Linked DNA regions of Homo sapiens: region 1 is linked to region 2. The links come from fine-mapping of genetic effects on gene expression. A gene starts in region 2. The other region holds a variant in brackets. All regions are shown on one strand. Distances are from middle to middle. Region 1 overlaps GSN (gelsolin). Region 2 holds the start of GSN (gelsolin).

What was found.
Region 1: its variant is fine-mapped to the expression of GSN in whole blood (TOPMed, PIP above 0.99). The same link has a PIP of 0.9 or more in monocytes.

Annotation. Positions count from the first base shown.
Region 1 is chr9:121,301,620-121,312,139 of GRCh38, reverse strand. GSN (gelsolin) reads right to left here. Exons shown (of 18, transcript NM_198252.3): 3 at 9,973-10,177; 4 at 9,075-9,229; 5 at 1,295-1,456. The coding sequence starts at 10,168. Among named protein-coding and RNA genes, the nearest start is that of GSN-AS1, 21 kb to the right of the region's middle. The variant T/C (reference allele first, on the strand shown) is at 4,897.
Region 2 is chr9:121,262,041-121,272,762 of GRCh38, reverse strand. It overlaps GSN (gelsolin), which reads right to left and starts at 4,601. Exons shown (of 18, transcript NM_198252.3): 1 at 4,544-4,601. RefSeq lists a silencer at 4,414-4,713.

The sequences.
Region 1 (10,520 bases), 39 kb before region 2:
ATGTCTGAGGACAGGAATTTTTTCACAGGTACAACTACATCTAGAATGTGTGCAAAAATGTTTGCCTGCTGAAGGGAATATAAATTGGCACAACCATTTTGGAAAACCATTTGGCCATAGCCACTAAAGCCGAATATACCTATTTCCTTATGACCCAGCAATCCTCCTTCTAGGAAAATACCTGACAGAAGTACGTTCGTATGTCCACCAAAAGACTTGTGCAAGAATGTTCAGAGTAGCACTGTCTGTAATAGCCCCAAACCAGAAGCCACCTCAAGTGCCCATCAACAACATAAAGGATACATAAATCATGGTACACCCACACAACTGAATCTTCCACAGCAAGGAAAATGAACAACCTACAACTAAATGCAACAATACGGATGCATCTCAGAAATGTAATGTTGAGCAAAAGGTCAGAGATAAAAGAACAAGGTTCCGTGTCTATAAAGTTCAGAAACAGGCAAAACTCATCTATGCTGTTGAGAAAGTTCAGGATGATGGTTGCCCTTGGGGTGAGGGCACCGAAAGGGGCAAAAGGGGCCTTCTAGGGGCTGGTGAGGTTCTGCTTCATGATCCAGTGTTACGTGAGTGTGTTCGCTCTGTGTAATCCATCAAGCTGTACACTCAGGATTCACACACTCCTCTGTGTGCCCATGACGCTTTAATAAAAAGCTTACACTAAATCAGTGTGTGCTCATGTTTGCACGGACATTATATCACAGGTGTATAAGCATATGAGCTTTGGGGTAGAAGGGCCGTGTCCATTTGCAGGTCTGCGCTCCAGGGATTTGTGAGACAAGTGTGTACAAAGCGTCACACATCTATAAGGTGGGCCTGGGTAAGGGCATCCCACACACATTGCCATAGATCATGGGCATGTGCAACTACATGTATGACATACACATGTGGGACCTTAAACAACATACCCGAGTATACATGTGTGGGCATTCATGATGGTGCACATGTGCACACCTGGTGGGCAAAAGCCCAGAGTGTTTGCCCATGACTGTTATATATTTATAAGCATGTGAAAAAGGACACAAGACGTACATATGAACAGAAGGTGCCAGGAAGTCTATATGTCAATCAAAGTCCAAGTACGCACTATACCCGTGGTGTGAGTCTACATTTGTGGGAGTCTTTGCATACAGACATATCTGTACGTGAACAATGCTGGTCCCTGTGGTTTGCCCACCTGCATCTATGCATTTGTTCACGTGGATGTACCCAAGTCCCTGATCAGACCAGGAGCACCTCAGTGGCTCCTGGGAAAGAGGAAAGCAGGACTCACGTTGCCCAGGTCCAGGATGAAGCAGTCGCCATTGTTGAAGCTCTCCCAGGACACAGGTACCTCGGTGGCACGGACCACACGCCGCCCTTTGACCTGGAAGAGTCTCTGCACCACCACCTCGTTGGGTACCACGTGCTTGAATCCTGATGCCACACCTCCTTTCTGTGGGGCCAAAGAGACAGCATTAGCCCAGGGGAGAAGGCCCAGGGAAGCAGATATGGAAGAAGGGGACAGAATTGAGGTAAAGGAAATTCTGGCTTGTGGACCAGGGGCTTTCCAGCAACACAGTGATTCTCAGTTAACTCAGGACTTTCATACCCATTATCTTGTTTGAGACTGTTTCAGAGTAGGAAACTGAGGTTTAGGAAAGGAATAAAATTTGCCCAAGGCCACACAGCTAAGAAGTGAGAGATTCCCTGCCCACTGCATCTTTCTGCCACCCCTTTGAATCCCATACTCCACTAACAAGGACCCCTGTAGCCACTTTCTAAATCAAAAAAACTGCAACAATTCCTTCCTCAAAACCGGCGTTTCCCAAAGGCACACTAGTCCCCTAAGACATTCTGCAAGGAAAGAGTTCCACGGTCAAATAAGCATAGGGAATGCTTCTCACTCACCCTCCCTGACTGTTATACAACGCGCATGTGCATAATAAAGGCTCTGTCAAATCCTATGGTGAATACACCTGCTTGCCTTTTGTTTTATACAGTATTTCCCTATCTTATTGAACCAAGAACTGCTTTTCTTTCTTTCCCTCTTTCTTTTTTCTTTCCTTTCTTTTTTTCTTTCTTTCATTCTCTTTCCCTCTCTCTTTCCTTTCCTTCCTTCCTTTCTCTCTTTCTCTCTCTCTCTCCTTCCTTCCGCTCTCTCTCTCTCTTCCTTCCTTTCAACAGGGTTTCACTCTGTCCCAGGCTGCAGTGCATTGGTACAATCACAGCTCACTGTAACCTCAAACTCCTGGACTTGAATGATCCTCCCATCTCAGCCTCTCGAGTGGCTAAGACTACAGTTATGAGCCACAGTGCCCAGCTTACTTATTTTATTTTATTTTATTGTAGACATGGGGTCTCACTATGCTGTTTAAGCTGGTCTTGAACTCCTGGCCTCAAGAGATCCTTGGGTGCTGGGATTACAGGAGTGAGTCACTGAACCCAGCCCAAGAACCACTTTTCTTCACCATATCCTGCCTCCAGCTTGAGTATTTTGCAAAAGCCACTTTGAGAGGTACTAATCCAAATCTTTCTCATCCTTCAAGGCTCTCTGGGAAGTCTTTCTGGATTGTTCCAGCCCATGCCACCCTTCTGCTTTCCCCTACGGTACCGCAGCAACTCCCACCCAGCAGTCCCTTCAGAGCAGCTATGGGTAAGGGACAGGTGCCCCGCCACAACAATGCTGGATGGCTTTGGGTAAGTCACTTGCCCTTTCCGAGCCTCAGGCCTCTCCTTTCTGAAGTGGAGACACAAGCTCCTGCTCCCCAGCCCTCTGTAATCATTACTGCATCCCAGAGCAAGGCGTTCAGGAGAGCTTCCCTGCTGCAGTCACAACTGCCCTCACTCAGAAGCAAGCCAAGGAAAGTCAGCTGGGCTTTCCTGTGAGCAGTCCCCAGCTCCATGCCCCAGAGTTGTCAAATCAGAGTTGGAAAGGTCCTTCTACTTCACCCCACTTTACCCACGGTAAACTGAAGCCCAGAGAAGTGAAGTGACTTACTCAAGGGCACTCAGCAAGTGCGTGGCCAAGCCAAGGCTGGAAACCTTGTTTCCTCCTCCCAATCGGGTGCTCGTCTCCCTGCTCCGGAGACACATGGGGGTGGAAGCAGAGGGCTTCCACTCAGGCCAGCAATGCAGCCACCCCATCCAGGGCCCCTCAGCCCACTGTGCTAAGTCTAATTCTAGCCGCACAGACTCGAGGAGGGCAAGGGACAAACGGAGTCCGTGTATATTGGGCTCCTGCTCTGTCTTCCTGTGTCAGCAGTATACGTGTTTGTGAAATGATGATGCCCACTGTGCCGGGCATTCTTCACGCATCGCCTGCAAGGGAGGTGTCATTGCTGCATCGCACTGATGTGCAAAATGGGGCCCACAGGTGACGGGACTTGCCCAAGGTGGTGGAGCTAGAATTCAAACCCAGGCATGTCTGAATCTGTAAGATCCACATTCTTCTCTCAATATCAGGTTTTCTCGCTCTGTTGCCCAGGCTGGAGTGCAGTGGTGTAATCTCAATTCACTGCAGCCTCCACCTCCTGGGTTCCAGCGATTCTTGTGCTTTAGCCTCCCAAGTAGCTGTGATTACAGATGTGCACCACCATGCCCAGCTAATTTTTGTATTTTTTGTAGAGATGAAGTTTCACCATGTTGGCCAGGCTGGTCTCGAACTCCTGGCCTCATGTGATCCTCCCGCCTTGGCCTCCCAAAGTGCTGGAATTACAGGCATGAGCCACTGTGCCAGCCAATATCAGGTTTTCTTAGAGCAAAGATCACTCAGTCATCCAGGATGGGAGGCAGGAACAAGCCATTATTCAGAGCCCTCTTTCAAGTAATGGATGTTTTTGGGTTGCCAGTGGCTGGAGGACTCCCTGGTGTCCCTTCTTGGTCTCAGCTAAGGCCTTTCAAGAGTCCCTTGGGACTAGCAGGGCGGCCAGTGCTCACAGAGCTAACAACCTATCTTTCCACCCTGCTTCCAGGGCCCCTTCAAGGGAGCTGTGGGTTGGCCACACTATGACTGACCTCGGTGTGGAGCAAGGGGTAAGACTGTGACTTCTGCTCCTGAATTTGCTGCCCAAAACTGGGAAGCAAGACAGTAAATTTTTCCATCATCAGGAAGGAGTGAGTTGGGACTCTGGGGTGAGGGACTGACCAGCTGCAGTCACAACTGCAGTCACAACTGAGGGGGTCCGAAGGCTGGATGGCCGTGAGGCCTGGGATTGGAGAGCCAGGCAGAGTGCAAAGGACATAGGTCAGGGCAATGCAGGGGAAGCGCAGAAAGGCAGGGGAAGCGCAGAAAGACAGGAGGGTTCTGAGACCGATGTAACCAAGCCTGCCCAGAGCAAGTGAGGAAGAACCGCCAGGGAAGAAAATGCAACAACCTGCGCTCACCTGTGCTCAGCTGTGCTTACCTGAAACAAGCACAGTGGCTGCCACTTACCGAGCTTTGCCAAAGCTGGGGCACCTGCTTTAAGTGCATGCAATGAAGTCCTGACCACAAGCCCCTGATGCAGGAACTATTAATAATTTTCCCACTTCAAAGGCAAGGAAACTGAGATTCAAAGAGATTAAGCATTGTGTCCAGAGCCCAGTGCTGGGCGGCAGTGCTGGGTTCTATCCCCAAGATCCCCCTTCCAGGGACCCAGCTTCATTCAACTGTCAGCCTAGGAACTCCTGACCAGGGGACTTCATTCACCTGGACATAATGAGAGAGTGGATGTGCAAACCTTTTCCAAAAGGTGCTAGAAGGACTCACTGTTTCTATTGATTCCTCGGAGACAAGGAAATGGGGGGAAAGAAAAAATTTTTACCCCTCTAAATATTTTACTTGTTGAAGTATGCCTTTCATTTTTGTTATTAAAATCTTTACCCTATTTTTTAAAAAGGAAAAGGGTTGCTTCA[T/C]GTCATAAATCTCACTTCTTAAAAATTCTCTGTATTTATTTATAAAATAATTCTTTTTTTTTTGAGACAGAGTCTCGTTCCATCGCCCAGGCTGGAATGCAGTGGTACGATCTCGGCTCACTGCAACCTCTGCCTCCCAGATTCAAGTGATTCTCCTGCCTCAGCCTCCTGAGTCGCTGAGATTACGGGCACCCGCCACCACGCCCGGCTAATTTTTGTATTTTTAGTAGAGACAGGGTTTCACCATGTTGGCCAGGCAGGTCTTGAACTCCTGACCTCAAATGATCCACCCATCTCGGCCTCCCAAAGTGTTGGGATTACAAGTGTGAGCCACCGCACCCGGCCTTATAACATAACTCTTGATGTTGAATTATTGCAGCCATGAGCTGCCTGATTAATTAACTCCTCTAATTTTACTGGTCTAGGGAATTAGAATTGGAAAGATTAATTAACAAAAATAAATTAAAGCAAGCTCTTAGAAGACATTAGTGGATCTACAAGGGCAGGGGAAAGAAGTTTTTTGAAGTTTTTCCTGTTTTTGACTATCATCTTTAGCACTGATTGCTGCTTTCTGTGGTCTAATCATTAGGTGAGCAAGATTGGCATCAAATTATTTGAACAAAATTCTACAGGATAAATTGTTTTAAAAGCCATTTTCCAAATTAAAGTGATTACATATATATGTGTCTGTCTACCTATATACGTTCAGAGAGACAGAAAGAAATTAGCCACTATATATCTCCAAGGGGAGAATCATGTTGGGAGGGCTTTTATTTTCTGGAACCTATATTTCTGTAATGTTTGACATTTTACAATAAGCTTATATTGCTCTTGTAGTCAGAAGAAGGGGGAAAAGAAGCAATGAAGATTTACATGAAAACAAAAGTTAAACTGTTTCTAAAACAAAGAAAAATGAATTGATCAGGCTTGGGCCCCTCCACCCTCTAAACTCAGAGCTCCTTATCTAAGGAATAGGAGAGAGGGAGGACAGAAAGGTTCCAGTGATTCTATGGGTTCCCAATTGTGTTCCTCAGGTCCAAGGGCTCCTAGGTCTCTGCCTAGCCCAGATTCCATTTGAACAATGGGTTTCAAATAACCCAGCCCCACGGGGTCTCCAGGATTCAGTCCAAAAATGGGGGTCTGCGGAGTGGGAGGAGGAGGGGCGGGGAATCAAGGGATTCTGAACTCTCTTGCAGGGCAGTGATCTAAGGATTTGGGGGTCATAGAACAAGAGGGCCAAGCCCCATGTCAGCCCTTTCTAGTGGCTTGCTGTCCCCTCCCTGCCCCTTCTCACACTCCGAGGACAGAATTGGCTCAGAGGAAGAGGCTTTCACAGGAACAAGTCTTGCATAACAAGCCCTGCTCCTCCGGGATCTATAATTGATGAGGGCGCCGGGGCGAGAACCTTGGGCTGGACCTGCCAAGTGCGGGGGCAGACTGAGGACTTACAGAAGGTGGTAAACAAGACCAGCCCTGGGCCTCCCATTCACACCAGGAGCCAGCGCCTTTCAGGACAGAAGCCCCAAATCTGGGCCCAGCTGGAGCTTTCCTCGAGTGTGATCCAAGAACATCCTGGAAAATCATCGGGGGGCCGGGGAACCTGGCTATCCAAGTAGATCCCAGGCCATATCCGAGCGAGGATCAAAGATCAGGGAGCCTCCAAATGTCTACTCTGAACCAGGTCTGTGCTAGGCCCTTCACACCTGGGTTTGCACACTAGTCCAATCACTTACTAGCTGTGTGACCTTGGAAAAGTTGCTTAACATCTCTGTGCCTTAGTAGCCTCATTTATAAAATGGTGCTAACAGATACCCTACCTGTTAGGGTAAAATGAGTTAAATGAGTAAAGCACCCAGAAGAGTCCCTGACACACAGAAAGTAATAGATAAGTGTTCAATGACAAGCACCTTTTACTAGCTGTGTGAACTTAGGCAAGTTAGTTTGCTCCTCTGAGCCTCAGCTTCCTCGTCTATGAAATGGAGCATTACCATCCACCCTAAAGGCTACAGTGAGAATTAAATGAGATCTTGTAGTCAAGGCTTAACACACGGTAAGGGTTATTATCATCCTTGTTTATTCCTAAAAATCCGGGAGCCTATGACCTGCTCTGCAACATTCTCTGACCTGGAAAATCACCCTTTCTGTGTATATGAGAACTCTCATATTTGTAACCATGTTAGACTGTCAGGTTATGCCCTAAGAAACAGTGACTAGGACAAGATAGATTAGCAAACACCTACTCATCTATCTCATCCCTGAACCCCTCTCAGAGCTGAGCACTCCCTGGGATCCCACATCACCCCACCTGGAGGCAATGGATTAACTCTTCGTGAGCCTGCCAGTCTCCCCAACTCCTCAGAACACTCTCAAGGGCAGGGACCCACCTTCTTCACTTGGGCACCCCAGCACCCATCACAGGGCCTGGCAGAGTTAAGGGAACACAATCCTGGTTTGAATATAGTTATGTGACCTCTCTGAGCCTCCAGTCTCATCTGTAAAATGGAATGGGAATTACTTACCTCCCAGGACAGTTGTGAGGCTGAAACGAGATAACCTACATTCCCAGTACCATATCTGCCATAGTGTAGCAACAATGAGCTGGTGCTGCTGTTATTGAGGCTCAGTAAATATTTGCTGAATGAATGATGAATGGAGGATGATTGAGAACACCCGCCCAAAGATACAAGACTTGCCCAAAGTCTCACAGCAGTTACAGAAGGTAGCCTTCCAACCTGAATCCCAATCTCTGTGATTCCTGGGCAAGTGTTCGTTCCATTTCTTGCTCCAGAAGTTGCAAAAAGACCTGGTCCTTCTCCAGCTCAGGGGACTGGCTCCCAAACTTCTCACCTCTCCTTCTGCAAGGTATCAAGGCCCCAGAAAGGGCTGTGGGAAGAAGGCAGAGCTGGACACCTCAGCAGGAGGAGCTCAGTGCAAGGGCACAAGGGGCTCCAGGGAATCCAGCCCAGCCCTGCCCAGCCCTGGACTGTGAGTTCCCAGGACACACCCTGCCCATTGCTATCTGAGTCTCACTGGCACTTTCCCATCATTCAATCTCTTATGCCTCACCAGGGCAGACAAGGTCACCACTCCATTGACATAGATGATCCTGAGGTCCAGAGAGGAACAGTGACTTCTCTAAGGTCACACAGCACATCAGCAGCACAGACAGGCTTGGACCCTACCCTAGGACCCTGGTCATTAGAGGTATGTTGGTTTAGTGGAAAGAATGCTAAGAGTCAGAACATCTGGGTTCTAGTCCTGGGTCTGGCACCAATTCGCTGTGTGACTCTGGGCCAATTGCTTAAGACTTTCTGTGTCTCAGTTCCCCTTCTCCCCTGGTAAAATGAGATTTGGACTCTGACATTAAGGCCCACCTGGCTGTGAAAGCCTGTGATCCCCTTCTCTATCCTGACCAAGGAAAACCCCAGCTTTGTAAAACTACAGTGTTTCCATAGCCCTTCCAGATGGCCAAGCCCCACGCAAGGCATTTCCCAGCCACCCCCACACCAAATCCTCTCCCAGCCCTGTAGGGCAGGTACAACTGGCTCTCAGGTAACCAGAGAGGAAAGGGAGGCTCAAGGAGGTCAAGTGGCTTGCAGGAAGTCACCAGCATATTAGGGTGCAGCCTCTTGGAGCTCCCAGTTTGGCCTTGCTCTGCCCCACCTGGCTAGGAGCTTGGGAAAAGAGCTCTGTCTTGATCCAGACTCTGAAGAGTTCAAGTTCAAAGGGGATTCTAGTGAACAGAAAGAGGGATGTGACTAACAATGCCCTATTAAATACTTAACACGGGGCCCTCTGTTGGCAAGGCCTTAAGAATTAAGGGGTACCAGAACAGGACTAGGCCAAAGCCCCCCAGGGCCTGCAAGAAGAACTGGATTTTCACCTCTGGCCCACTCCTCACTGTTGGGGCTAGGAAGACAACACTATGAACTTATGGGGAATTTTCTTCTCCCCATTTTAAGATAAGGAACCAGAGGCTCAGAAAGGCAGTGTGATTTGTCCAAGCTCACATGGCTAGAAAGAGGCCAGGATTTAAACACAATGTTGGTTGACTCCAAAGCCTGACCTCTGATCGGTCTGCCCACTGCATCACAAGGCCAAAAGATAGATGGGCCTGAGTGAGCCCTGTTACTGGTGCATCTGTCCCTACCGCTCAAGCAAGGTGGGGCCCAACCCACCTTGTACTTCAGGCCAGACTTGAAGTAGCCTAGGAAGGTGGCCGACTCGAAGCCCTGGACCTCACGGTGCTGCACGGCCCGGCCGTTCAGGTAGTCATCCAGCTGCACGGTAAAGATGGCGGCCGCCCCGCTCTCATCCTGGCTGCACTCATTGCCTACGGGACATCAGAGCAATATGAGCCTGGCTTTCCAGAAGTATCCCAGACCCCTGAGGAAGAGGAGGTGGAGGAGGAACCCCAGCACTGCCCTGACCTAGCTGTAGAAGCTGAGAAAGCCCTTGCCTTCTGTGAGCCTCAGTTAATCCATCTGTATAACAGGACGATGGACCTCATTTTTCTCTAAGCGTCCTCCCAGCTCTGTCACATTCCCTTATGTTCATTCTCAGCCCTCCTGAGCGTAAACTCAGGACTGGGAGCATCAGATCAATTCACAGATTAGGAAACTGAGGCTCAGCAAGGGGGCAGAACTTATAGCATCCCACGGCAGAGGTGTGGCAGGGACTCCGGGCTCCTGACTCAAGGGCAAACTGGGGAGTGCCTGGAGCTGGGCCAGGGAAGTTGTGGAGAGGTCCAGGGTCTCCAATTCACCCACAGTTCTGAGTGTCACAGTAAGGTGTTTAACGCTCACAACATTCCTGTGAGGTAGTGCAGAGCTATCATCATGTCCACTCCACAGGGACACTAAGTGACTTGCCAAAGGACAGAACATGGGTTAGGGGCAGAGTGGGGGTGTGAACTTGGCCAGGCTGGCTCTAGCGTCTCAGGGCATGAACCACCAGTCAAGGGCCCAGCACATACTAGGTGCTCAATAATCAGTTCCCTCCCTGGGGACCATGCCCCAAAGGTCTGCACTGTTCAGAATGGGGGCTGGGGCAGGGGCTGGGCAGGGCCAGCCTCACCCAGCCAGTAGTGGAGGTCATACTGCAGATTTCCGTTCCTCAGCTGCACTGTCTTCAGGATGACGTAGGCGTCGCCCGTGAAGAAGTCTCCATAAAGGTTGGTGGGCACGGGCACCAGATCGAACTTCTCCACACGCCAGATCTGCAGGCCAGGCTCCTTCCCTGCCTTGAGGAACTCGGGGTGTTCCACCACCATGCTGTTGGGCTGGGATGAGACAGGGCAGAGCCTAAGCGGGGCAGGGTCCTGGCAGGGAGAGACCCCAGGCATGAGGGAGGGCGGTTTCTAGCACCAAGAGCATCTCACTTGAGCCTCCTGCTCTCCCCACGCCCCAGGGAAGTCTATCCCCTTCTGGGCACCCTGTCTCAACGAGTCAGCAAACAGGGCAAGAGTTTTATGCTTCAAAACCTGTGCCCTGGCCAGCATCTGTCCCTCCTACTCAGCCCCTCTTCAGCTTTTTCTGGTGATGGAGGGTACAGAGGGCTCTACCTCCCTGCTCCTTTCTTTTCTTTCTTTCTTTTTTTCTTTTTTTTTTTTTTTTTTTGAGACA
Region 2 (10,722 bases):
TCCCCTCGTAGATCTGTTAAAAGATTAAAGCAGATAGTGAAAGCAAAAGGTGAACATACATAGTAAGTGTGTTACATATGGTGGCCCTTATTATTGTTGCTTGTAGAGCAGGGAATGGGATACATCAACAAATCCTAGGCCTCAACTCCCTTATCTGCAAAATGGGGCAATCAATTCAGTCCGAAAAGATTAAATTCAAGAACAGTAGCTGAATCACCAGTTGCACCACTGCGGGCTCACTTTGTGTCTCAGACATGCCGGACCCAAGTACATGTGGGGAGCACAAAGCCCTCCAACTCAGAGGCCATCAGAGCTGGGAAGGCTGACATTATGCTGTCCACCCTACAGTGCAGAATGGACACTGGGGCCCAGAGAAAGGCATGCATTAGCCCAAGTCACCCAGTACTTTGTCACTGGCAAAGCCAGGACCCAAGCCCAGGCCTTCAGCTGCCTACCCTTGCCCACAACACCCACTGCTTTTCTCTGCCCTATTCTTAAATTGCTGATGTGGTCCCAGGCAGGGCAGACGAGAGCAGGCATATGGCAGGGGAGGGACAGAGGGAAGGGGAAGCTGGCCAGCAGCAGGAACTGAGCCTGCCTGTGGTCTCCAACTTCACAAACCACATCAGGCTGAAATATGACACACGCTCACTCCGTTGAAAGCGAGGAGATATTTTTACTTAACATCCCCCGGCTGCCTAAACACTGGTCTCTTTTTTTCCCTTCCTCCCCAAAATGCATAACCCCTGGGACGTGCTTTTCTCTGCTTCTGCTGGCATTTTCTCAGGGAATAACCAAGGAGCAGGAGAGTGTCCAGTTTTCCTGGCTTCGCCAGATAGATTTCCAGAGCATAAGCTTGATTGATGAAAAGGGGGGACCAGTCCTGGCTGGGCTCTCACCTCACCACATGACCTTGCTGGGCAAGTCCTGTGTCCTTTTGGAGCCTGGATTCCCTGAAATGGAGGGGAGATTGACCTGCACTGAGGGTCCTGCGGATGGCACAGGAAAGCATGAGTTTACAAACAGCCCCGGGAGGCCCCTCCAGGCCTCTCTGCTGCAGGGCTGAGCTCTCCAAGCTCTGCACACCGACACCCACCCCTCATAAAAGCATAACAAACTCCCTTACCAGTTCTCCTAATACCAGGACTAGAAAGAATTTTCAAGAGAATGTTTAGTGCTGTCATTAATAGCTATGGCTCTGTCGTCAGACCTCTGGAATCCTTGCACCATCACCCAATAGCCACACAACCCGGGGCATGTTATTCAGCCTCGGACTCAGTTTCCTCATCTGTAAAAGAAGATACTAGTATCTACCTCAGAGGAATGGTTGCAAGGAATCAATAAAGTAATTAATGTTCCAGTGCTTGGTATATTAAAAGATAGCTTTTTTTGTCTTTTCTTTTTTTGTTTTGAGACAGTATTGTTCTGTCATCCAGGCTGGAGTGCAGTGGCGTGATTTCAGCTTACTGTAACCTCCGTCTCCAGGGTTTAAGCAATTCTCATACCTCAGCCTCCCAAGTAGCTAGGATTACAGGAGCATCCCAGCACGTATTTTCAGTAGAGACAGGGTTTCACCATGTTGACCAGGCTGGTCTCAAACTCCTGGCTTAAGCCATCAACCCAACTCGGCCTCCCAAAATGCTGGAACTGCAGGTGTGAGCCACCATGCCCAGTTAAAAGATAGCTTTTTATTATTATCATGCAAACCAACATCTCTCCATTTTACACATGAGGAACCAGAGGCTCAGAGAGATAGGATTTGCCCAAGGTCACCCAAAGAACCAAGACTGGGGGTCCATTTCCAAGTCAGTGCTTCTAACTTCTCTCACACCTGTGGTCTCTGATAAGCAAATATACACACCCAGAGGCCGCAGACACAGGATGTAAAAGTTTTCTTAAAGAAAACCAGAGCTCAGTGTCTCAGCAACGTACCATAGACCAAGCAGAAATCATCTCTATGACCCACATCACAAATGACCCAAACTATTCACATGGAGTAGGGGAAAGTGACCCACTGTCACTGGATGGCTAAAAGTGAAGGCATCCAATCAACGTGTTTGGCAGGAGTGCACACACCATTGTTAACAGTGGCGACCTCTGGGGAAAGAGGCGGGCTTGGAGGGATTCTTTAACAATTTTTGTTTGTTTTAAAACTCATGAAAAAGAAAAAAAAGTTACAATGCTGAATACCTTAGCAACCTTCTCCAGTAGGTCTAGCCTGTTGTCTGCTTTTAGATGAAATTTATAGCAGGTTCTGAGACCTTCAGCTGGGCTTCCAGAATCTGCTGCTCTGACCCATCCCAGTGGCCACTGCTCTAGTTCAGACCTGCAATCTACTTCACTTGAATCATGCAACAGCCTCCTCAGGGCCTTCCTGCCTCCAGATCAGCCTCGTTCAATGCATCCCCTACATCAGCCATTCAGAATAACGAGTTTTTAAAAATCACTGCTCTGTCAAAACCCTTTCTCAGCTCTTCATTGCCTTCAGGATGAGGTCCAAACCCTTAGCTTATAATCTAGTTCCATTTTCATTTAGATTCTCAACCTCCCACCACCCCGCCCTTCTCCCATCCTCCACTCTAGCCACATGGATGGCTCAGAAAATCTCAGTGCCTTTGCACTAGTGGTTCCTGCTTCCCAGAATGTCTTTTCCCCCAACTCCTGTTTCTCCTGGTAAATGATTATTCATTCTGAGGTCTGGCTCACCTAGACAAAATTAGTCACTCCTCTTGCAGGCTGAAGTCACTCTTAATATGGCACAAAAGTGTCAAACAGTATAGATGGCAAGCATCTTGAGGACAGAGAGCTCTGTCCTCTTCCAAGGCTCTTTGGCCCCTCGCAGGGCAAGGCACAGAACACAGGCCCAGAGAAGTGCTGAAAGGAGGGAGGCGGGGAGGAAGGAAATGCCATGCGGGGCAAACCCTGCAGCCACCCCTCCTGGGAGCAGCCTGTTTCCAGGCTCATGTTAGTCCCTAATAAAAGGACTGTGGAAAATTCTGGAGTAAACTTTCCTCCCCTGATTCACACAGAAACCTTCTTTGCTGCTGTGTAACTCACCGAGTGCCAACCCAAGCTCCCCTGGCTGTTTACAATTTCCCTGGCATTTATAAATAGCATGGCCCCAGAAAGAAAAATGGAGTTTCAAAGGAGCTGAAAGCCGACCGTTCCCACCCCCATCCTTCCTCCTCTGTTTCCAAGCCTCTCCCCCTTAACAGCCCCAAGAAACACCAACCAGCACCCCCAAGTGTGTATGTACAGGGAATGCTTGTCCCTTTAGTAAACGGAACACCCAAGAAGGAGGCTAGAGTCCCTCCCAGCAAGGAGTCCGCAAACGGCAGACCGGAATTGGGTCTCAGCCCTACCCTGCCTCACTGTGTGACAATTAGCCCATCATAAACTCTCTGGGTCCTTGACTTTTCTCAACTGTGAAATGGAGGAAATGGAGATGGGGTAAGATTCTAGCAAGCTATGGTCGCTGTAAACGGCAGAGCGGTGAGAGGTCCTGGTGCCCTGGTCAGAAATGTGGTCCTGGGAGAACAGGACACACAGGATTAAGTGTTTGAAAAGTCCCCAGATGCCAAACAAAAGCGAAAGGCACCTCCCCAGAGGCCCCGCCTTCCACAAAGTCCAATTACCCTCAGGACAGCCCAGAATGAGTTCTGGGTGTTTTAAAGCTCCCTTCCATGCTCTGAGGAGGGTGTGAAGACAGGATAAAGCGACAGATGTCTGGGCAGACAAGGAGCTAGGAAGAAAGCCAATGTCTCCTGCTCACCCACACCCCCAGCCCCCAGCCTTCCAAGGACTGGGGCTTCCCCCTGGGCACTGCCCAGACCAGCCAGCCTGCACTGGACCAGAGGGAAGTTGCTGTTATTTAGGTTCTGGGGGGCTGGACCCCAGAAGACATGGGGGCTCAGGGAGAAGGGGTTCCAATCACTGTCTTCAACTCCAGAAGAAGCTTCCGTGTGAGTCAGGGAAGGGAACACTGCAGGGCCGGGGAGAAGCCAGCACCTACAGGTAGCAGGCGCCTGAAGATTTCAGACAGTGTAAGGAAGAACTTTCTAACAGTCCCCAGAAAGAGGAAGCAGCTGGAGAGGAGAGCAGGCACAGGTATCGTCCAGGAGGCAAGGGTCCTCTGAGTGGACTCCCCAGCAGAGTCACCGCCCAGACCGTAGCTGGTGGTCCCCTGCATGCCCGGGTCAGACAACCCAAGTGCAGGGGTGACCCCGGGCCAGTTCCCCCATCCCGGGGGCGGGGTCGAGGTTATTAGCTCAGGTGCTAGCAGCACAGTGGAATCACGGGGTGGAGGCCTGGCCCCTCTCCTCTCCTGCTCCGGCGTCTCCCCATCCCCCAACTCCCATCCACACTCTTTGGTCCCTTGGAAGACGGGAAAAGTGAGCGAGGAAGCCCTTTTCCAGCGATGCCCCCGCGGCCGGGCCGAGCTCCAGGCGCGGGCGAGATAGGACCGGGAAGGAAGGGAGAGGAAGGACTCAAATCAGCCCGGGACCCCCAGATGCCCGGGGCCGGGGCCGCGCGCCTCCCCTACCTGCTGCTGCGGCACTGGAGACAGCGGCTGCTGGGTCCAGCTGCGCTCAGCTGGTTCCGGGCGGCGGGGCGGGGGCGTTGTGGTGCGCGCGGCCGGGGTGGGCAGGGCGCGGGCGGGAGCCGCCCTCGGGGCGGGGCGGCCGGGCAGGCGGGTGGGGGAGGAGCGCCAGGCCCTCCCGTCGGCTGCTGGGCGGGTGGCTCCAAGCTCGCCTTCGTCCAGGGGGACCCCTCGCTTCACCTCGCAGGAAGGCACCAAACCAAGCCCTCTGCTTTCCCCTGGAGGAAACTGAGGCCCGGAGCACGGAGGGGAGATCTGAAGAGGCCTAGGGTCGGGGAGGAGACCCAGGGCAGCTCCTGAGCTGGGCTGGGGCCAAAGAGCTCAGATGGGACGGGCAAGCGAGCAATGCTCAACTAGCACCAGCGGAGGCAGATTTCAGCCCTGGAGAGAACGGACTTCAGGAGGCAAAGCCCTCGAAGAGTGACATAGGCTGCATGCAAAGCAGGGGAGATTCCCTCCCACGGAAGGGAATAAGGAGGAAGAGCGATTCCCAGCTCATTCCGAATGAAGTAACGAAAATGCCAAGTGCATCCCTGGTCCTTAAAGTGGACCATTAAGCAGGCGCCTCGGAGTCAGAAGGCCTGGTTTGGAACCCCAGACATCGACTAGTCCTGTAACTTTGGGCAAGCGAGCTCACATGTCTAAGTCTCCGTTTCCTCGTTTGTCAAATGGGCATCCTGAATTGCCGCTTCATGGGGCGGTTGAGAAGACTCAGTGAGAAAAAGACTCTCAGCACAATGACAGGGACCGTGGCTTCTGCATAAACGGAAGGGATGTTCTTATTAGTGTCATGGCAGATACTGTTTTAGGAGATTGAGGAAATCCACATTGGGTAGAAAGATGAGTGCAAGGTCAATTTTAAGCAAATGTAATACTTTGTTGATTTCAACAACATCTCATATGCATTTGAGACGATAGCCGTTTATAATGCAGCAAGGCATAAGACGGCCTCCCAGCAGTCCTGGTGCACACATGAGTTCCCAGGACTTTTGGAGTTGCCGCGTGACTCCGGTTTGGAAGGATTCACACACTCCACAGGAGACTGCACCACATGACAGAGATGTCCATTCCCAGCCTGGGTGCTGGCAGCAGCCCCATGTTCAGCCAGGGTAAAGCTCCCTCTTAACACAAGGTAAAATGTACTAGAGTCAGTAATTGCCGGGTGCTGGGGATCAGAGCAGAAAAGGCTGTTGTTTAAGTAGCACAGAAGCCAAGAGCACAGTGCTCACTCCCTGGTTTTTCCATTGAATAGCAGCCAGGGAAGCCACAGGACCCAGGGAATCTCACCCTGGCTCTTCCTCCTGCCATTCTCTCTTTGTTCAACACCAGTAAATACAAGAACCATTTCTTGAATGCCTCATGCCATGCTCTGGGCTTCCCACGTATTACCGACTTTAATTCTCACCTCCCTACCTGGCCTCCTAAGGGAGGCATTACCATGTGTATTTTTCAGATGAGCAGGCCAAGCCCACAGAAAGGGTTAAGTACTCTCTGGAGGTCACACTACTGATACTGTGCAGTCTACTCTTCTATGCCTGAGTCCTTGGCCCTCGCTTCTTTGCTCAATGTCTTATGTCACACTCTGCCACCTTTCCTGGCTTGGGAAATTCTGCCCAGTTCCACTTTCTCTGAGAATACAAGCAAGGTATCCACCCCGCAGGGAGGCTCACACCATCTCTGCTACTCTCTGCTTTCTCCAGAGGCTGCCTGGGGCCCAATGCAAGGCTGCTGGGGAGAAAAGCAAAAACACAGGCTTATTTGGCTCTGGAATCTTTGATTACAAGCCCCGGCATACACATGCCTTGGAATTATCTAACATATCATTTCCAGCCCCAGCAACTGCTCTCAGACAAAGGGAGGTGGAACTCTGAATCTGTGTCCCCATAGAACTGGAGAATACCACATCACGATGGAGGAAACATTGGAGAATGTCTGCTCCAACTCCTCCCTTTAGAGATGGAGAAACTGAGGCCAGGAGAGCAAAAGGGTTCACATTCTAAGCTAGATCTAAGGTTCCATATTCTAAGCTGGGTCAGATGCCTACCCATAACCCTGTAATTGCTCCATTTGGTGGCTGGAGAGGAACATGGGAACAGGGTATCACCAGGAATCATTAGAAATGATAATGAAGATAATGATGATGATGATTGATTGATGATGATTGTGATGATGATAACCAATACTTACATGGGAGTGCTCCTCTAGGAACACTTCTAGAAATCTCCTGGTGCTTTGCTTTATGACTCAACATGTGTATTTTATAGCTGGCAGGATATATCAAGTCTGCCTTTCATGGATGCCTAGAAGTCTTCTTGGTATCCTGTCTTCATTCCTTTCTAGATACCTCTTTGTACTTCTCCCCCCATTGGATCTAGGTAAGGTAAGGCCTGTTTGTCCTGGATCCTCACCTCAGAGTGAATGTCTTGCTGATAAGGATCTCCTCTGATGGAAGAACTTTGATATCTTCTTTTGCCAGAAGACCACCTCCTTCCCAGAGTGAGGCTGGGGAGAAATGAAGGCCACACACAGGCCAGGCATTAGACAATCTGGGGGTACCTGCTCTCTCCTCTGAGAACGCCTCTTCCCACCCAAGGGGATGGCCCTCACTTGCACCCAGGTTTGTACTGTAACCTTCCCCCACAACACAGTTGACAGCATGAGGAGTGGACGGCAGAAAAAAGCTGGACTATTAGAATTTGGAGCTGGAAGTTGAGACATGACAATCATGGTTAATTAACTGGGTCTGTGAGGACCAATGATCTCTGAAGGCCAAGGCTGCCATTTTGAGGTGGCCATCTTCCATCGTATTCACAGAGAAAGCCAATGAGGCTCGTTAAATGACTAGAAGGGTGTCGCAAAACTCACAGAGGAGATGCCTGGGCTGGGCAGCCCAGGAGGCTTCAGGGTTCAGGGGCTCTTCTGATTACAGACCTCTCCTGGAGCTGGCTTCAGAAAGAGAAGTTATCAGCACAAGTATTTGTTGAGCATCGAATGCCTTGTAGTTTGTCCCTAGAAGCAGAGGATGAGACAGGGATTTCATACAAGGGATTACTTGAGAGAGCACTCTCAGGAGATCCTGAAATATCCCATGGAACACTAGGGCAGGGGTGCAGCTGGGCCTCAGGATCAGACCACAAGCAGGACCTGAGTACTAAAGGGAACCCAGAAAGTACTCTCTCCCCCATCTTTCATCTCTGCCTGTCTGCTCACATCACACAAGCATTTCTGCTTTCCAGAAAATGGCTTTTACCAGCAGCAAGCTGGAATCTTTGTTTGTAGTCCACATTCTAAGTTGGATCAGATGCCTACCCTTTATCTAATTAACTCTGGCCCGAGTGACAGGGTCCTACTGCACAAACCTGGCTGCTCCCACTGTAACCTGTGGGTGGAGGGGGTGCACTTCCCAGAGAAAAGGGGAGGGGAAGCCAAGCAGAGACAACGGCTTGGATTCAGTCAGCCTTGAAAGGATGGAAAGAATAAGAGTGGAGGTGAGGAAGGGAACAGCATCTTCTGCTAAGAGCACAGAATAAGCAAAGGTGTGGAGGTCAGAGAAAGACAGAGCTGGAAGAAGGAAAGGAGACTGTTATTTTCTCCAGCCTCGGTCCCCTTTAGTGTTGTGCTAGTGTTGTGTTCTTAAGAACTGATTTAGTGTGTTTAGTGTTGTTTTCTTACGAACTGATTGCTCAATTTCCATGAATTTTTGTGGATTTTTTTGAGACAAGATTTCACTGTCACCCAGGCTGGAGTCAGTGGCACAAACATGGCTTCCTGCAGCCTTGACCTCTGGGCTCAAGCAATCCTCCTGCCTTAGCCTCCCAAGTAGGTGGGACCACAGGTACATCCCACCAGGCCTGGCTAATTTTTATGTTATTTGTAGAGATGAAGTCTCTCTATGTTACCAGACTGGTCTTAAACTTTTGGGCTCAAGAGATCCTCCCACCTCAGCCTTTGAAAGTGCTGGGATTATAGGAGTAAGCCATCACACCTGGCCAAATTTCCATGCATTCTTACACCCAGCTGTATTAAGGCTGTATTAAGCACAGCCTTCAATAACAATCTATATAAACTTATAATTAAGTAAATTATAAATTGATATGGTCTGGCTCTGTGTTCCCACCCAAATCTCATCTCGAATTGTAATCCCCATAATCCCCATGTGTCAAGGAAGGAATCTGGTGGAAGGGAGGTGATTGGATCATGGGGGCAGTTTCCCCCATGCCGTTCTCATGATGGTGAGTTCTCATGAGACCTGATTTTTTTTTTTTTTTTTTTTTGAGATGGAGTTTCCCTCTCGTTCCTAGGCTGGAGTGCAATGGCGCAATCTCGGTTCACCGCAACCTCCACCTCCCAGGTTCAAGCGATTCTGCTGCTTCAGCCTCCTAGTAGCTGGGATTACAGGCACCCGCAACAACGCCCGGCTAATTTTGTATTTTTAGTAGAGACGGGGTTTCTCCATATTGGTCAGGCTGGTCTCGAACTCCCGACCTCAGGTGATCCACCTGCCTCAGCCTACCAAAGTGCTGGGATTACAGGCGTGAGCCATCTTGCCCAGCCGAGACCTGATTCTTTTAGGAGTGTTTGGCAGTTCCTCCTTCACACACTCTCTCTCCTGCCACCACGTAAGACTTGCCTGCTTCCCTTTCCACCATGATTGTAAGTTTCCTGAGGCCTCCCAGCCATGTAGGACTGTGAGTCAATTAAACCTCTTTCCTTCATAAATTACCCAGTCTCAGGTATGTCTTTATAGCAGTGTGAAAATGACTAATACATAAATAGAGGTAATAAATTCTCAAAACTTAGTACTTCATAATTATTTTACTATATTTCACTATTATCTGTGCTCTTATTTTCACCATTTATCTATATGGTAGAAATACTGTATAATTGTGTGCAATTGCATTTCTACTCGCAACTCCACACTCAGTGACATCATGCTGGTAGCCCAGTCCCCACGGTGGGAATATTTACACCATGGAGATCAGGAAAGGCTATAAATCAGGGTTTTCCTTCTCCCTCCACCAAGAGCCTTTCGTTTAACATTTACCAGCACACCACTGCTCAAAACCTGGGCTTCCCCCATTCGACTCACTGCATTCAGATTGTCCATTTATGTGTATATCTCATTAGACTGGCAGCTCAGTGGAAGGAGAAAATGTGTTTGCTTGGTTTTCCGACATCATCCCAGTGTCAAATAGTGCTTGGCACAGAGCAGATGTTTAGCACGTTTTTATTGGATTAATGAATTGGTGAATGAGGAAAGTGACCACAGATGGGTTTGGTCAGATAGAGTGATTGGGGACACTACGGGAGGACTCAAGAGAGGGTTGCTCTTTGAATTTCAAGAGCCATTATTCTAGACATGTTCTGAATGCCCCAGGCAGGAATGTGTTTGTCCCACTATTTTAATGAGAACTTAAAACTTTGTGTTCCATATAAGCACTGCCAGCTCAGCCCTAAGACTTGGATTCCTAGCAGCTATGATTCTGTAATTATGCCCAATAAATGCCAGTAAGATGCTAAACAGCATAAGCATCAGTGACTTCACTGTTACACAGCAGAGGATTTCCCAGCTAGCCAGCCTCCCAGGTTAGATTTTTCAGGAAAGAGCAAAACTGCCTGGAGGTTCTTCCTCCACAGCTTAACAGAGCTGGCCCTATGACAGTGGCATGCATAATAATAACTAAAAGCATAATTATAACTGCCACATTCTGAGTGCTTACTCTATGCCGGTCACTTTATTATTTCAATTAAGCTTGACAATTGCCCTCTAAGTTAGGTATTCTTGTCTCCAATTTTACAAATAAAATAAATAGGCTCAAAAAGGATAAGTAATCTGCTTAAGCTTCCACAGCTAGGTGAGTGGTAGAGCTGGGATTTGAATCCAGGTCTGTCTCCAAAGCCCAGATTCTTTCTATAGCCAGAGTGAAAGAAGGCCAAGGGAAAGGTAAGGTCTTTTCCATGCTCCCTTCTCAGGATCAAGAATTATTTAATTTCATCTCGACAACGTTAGGATCTGATGTTAGGCCCCTCTCTGTACACTTCATATAATGGTTGACTACAGCTCGTTGTTTCTTTGTATGGAAGGTATTTGGAGCTGTTCAAGAAATGTGGAACTACTCTCA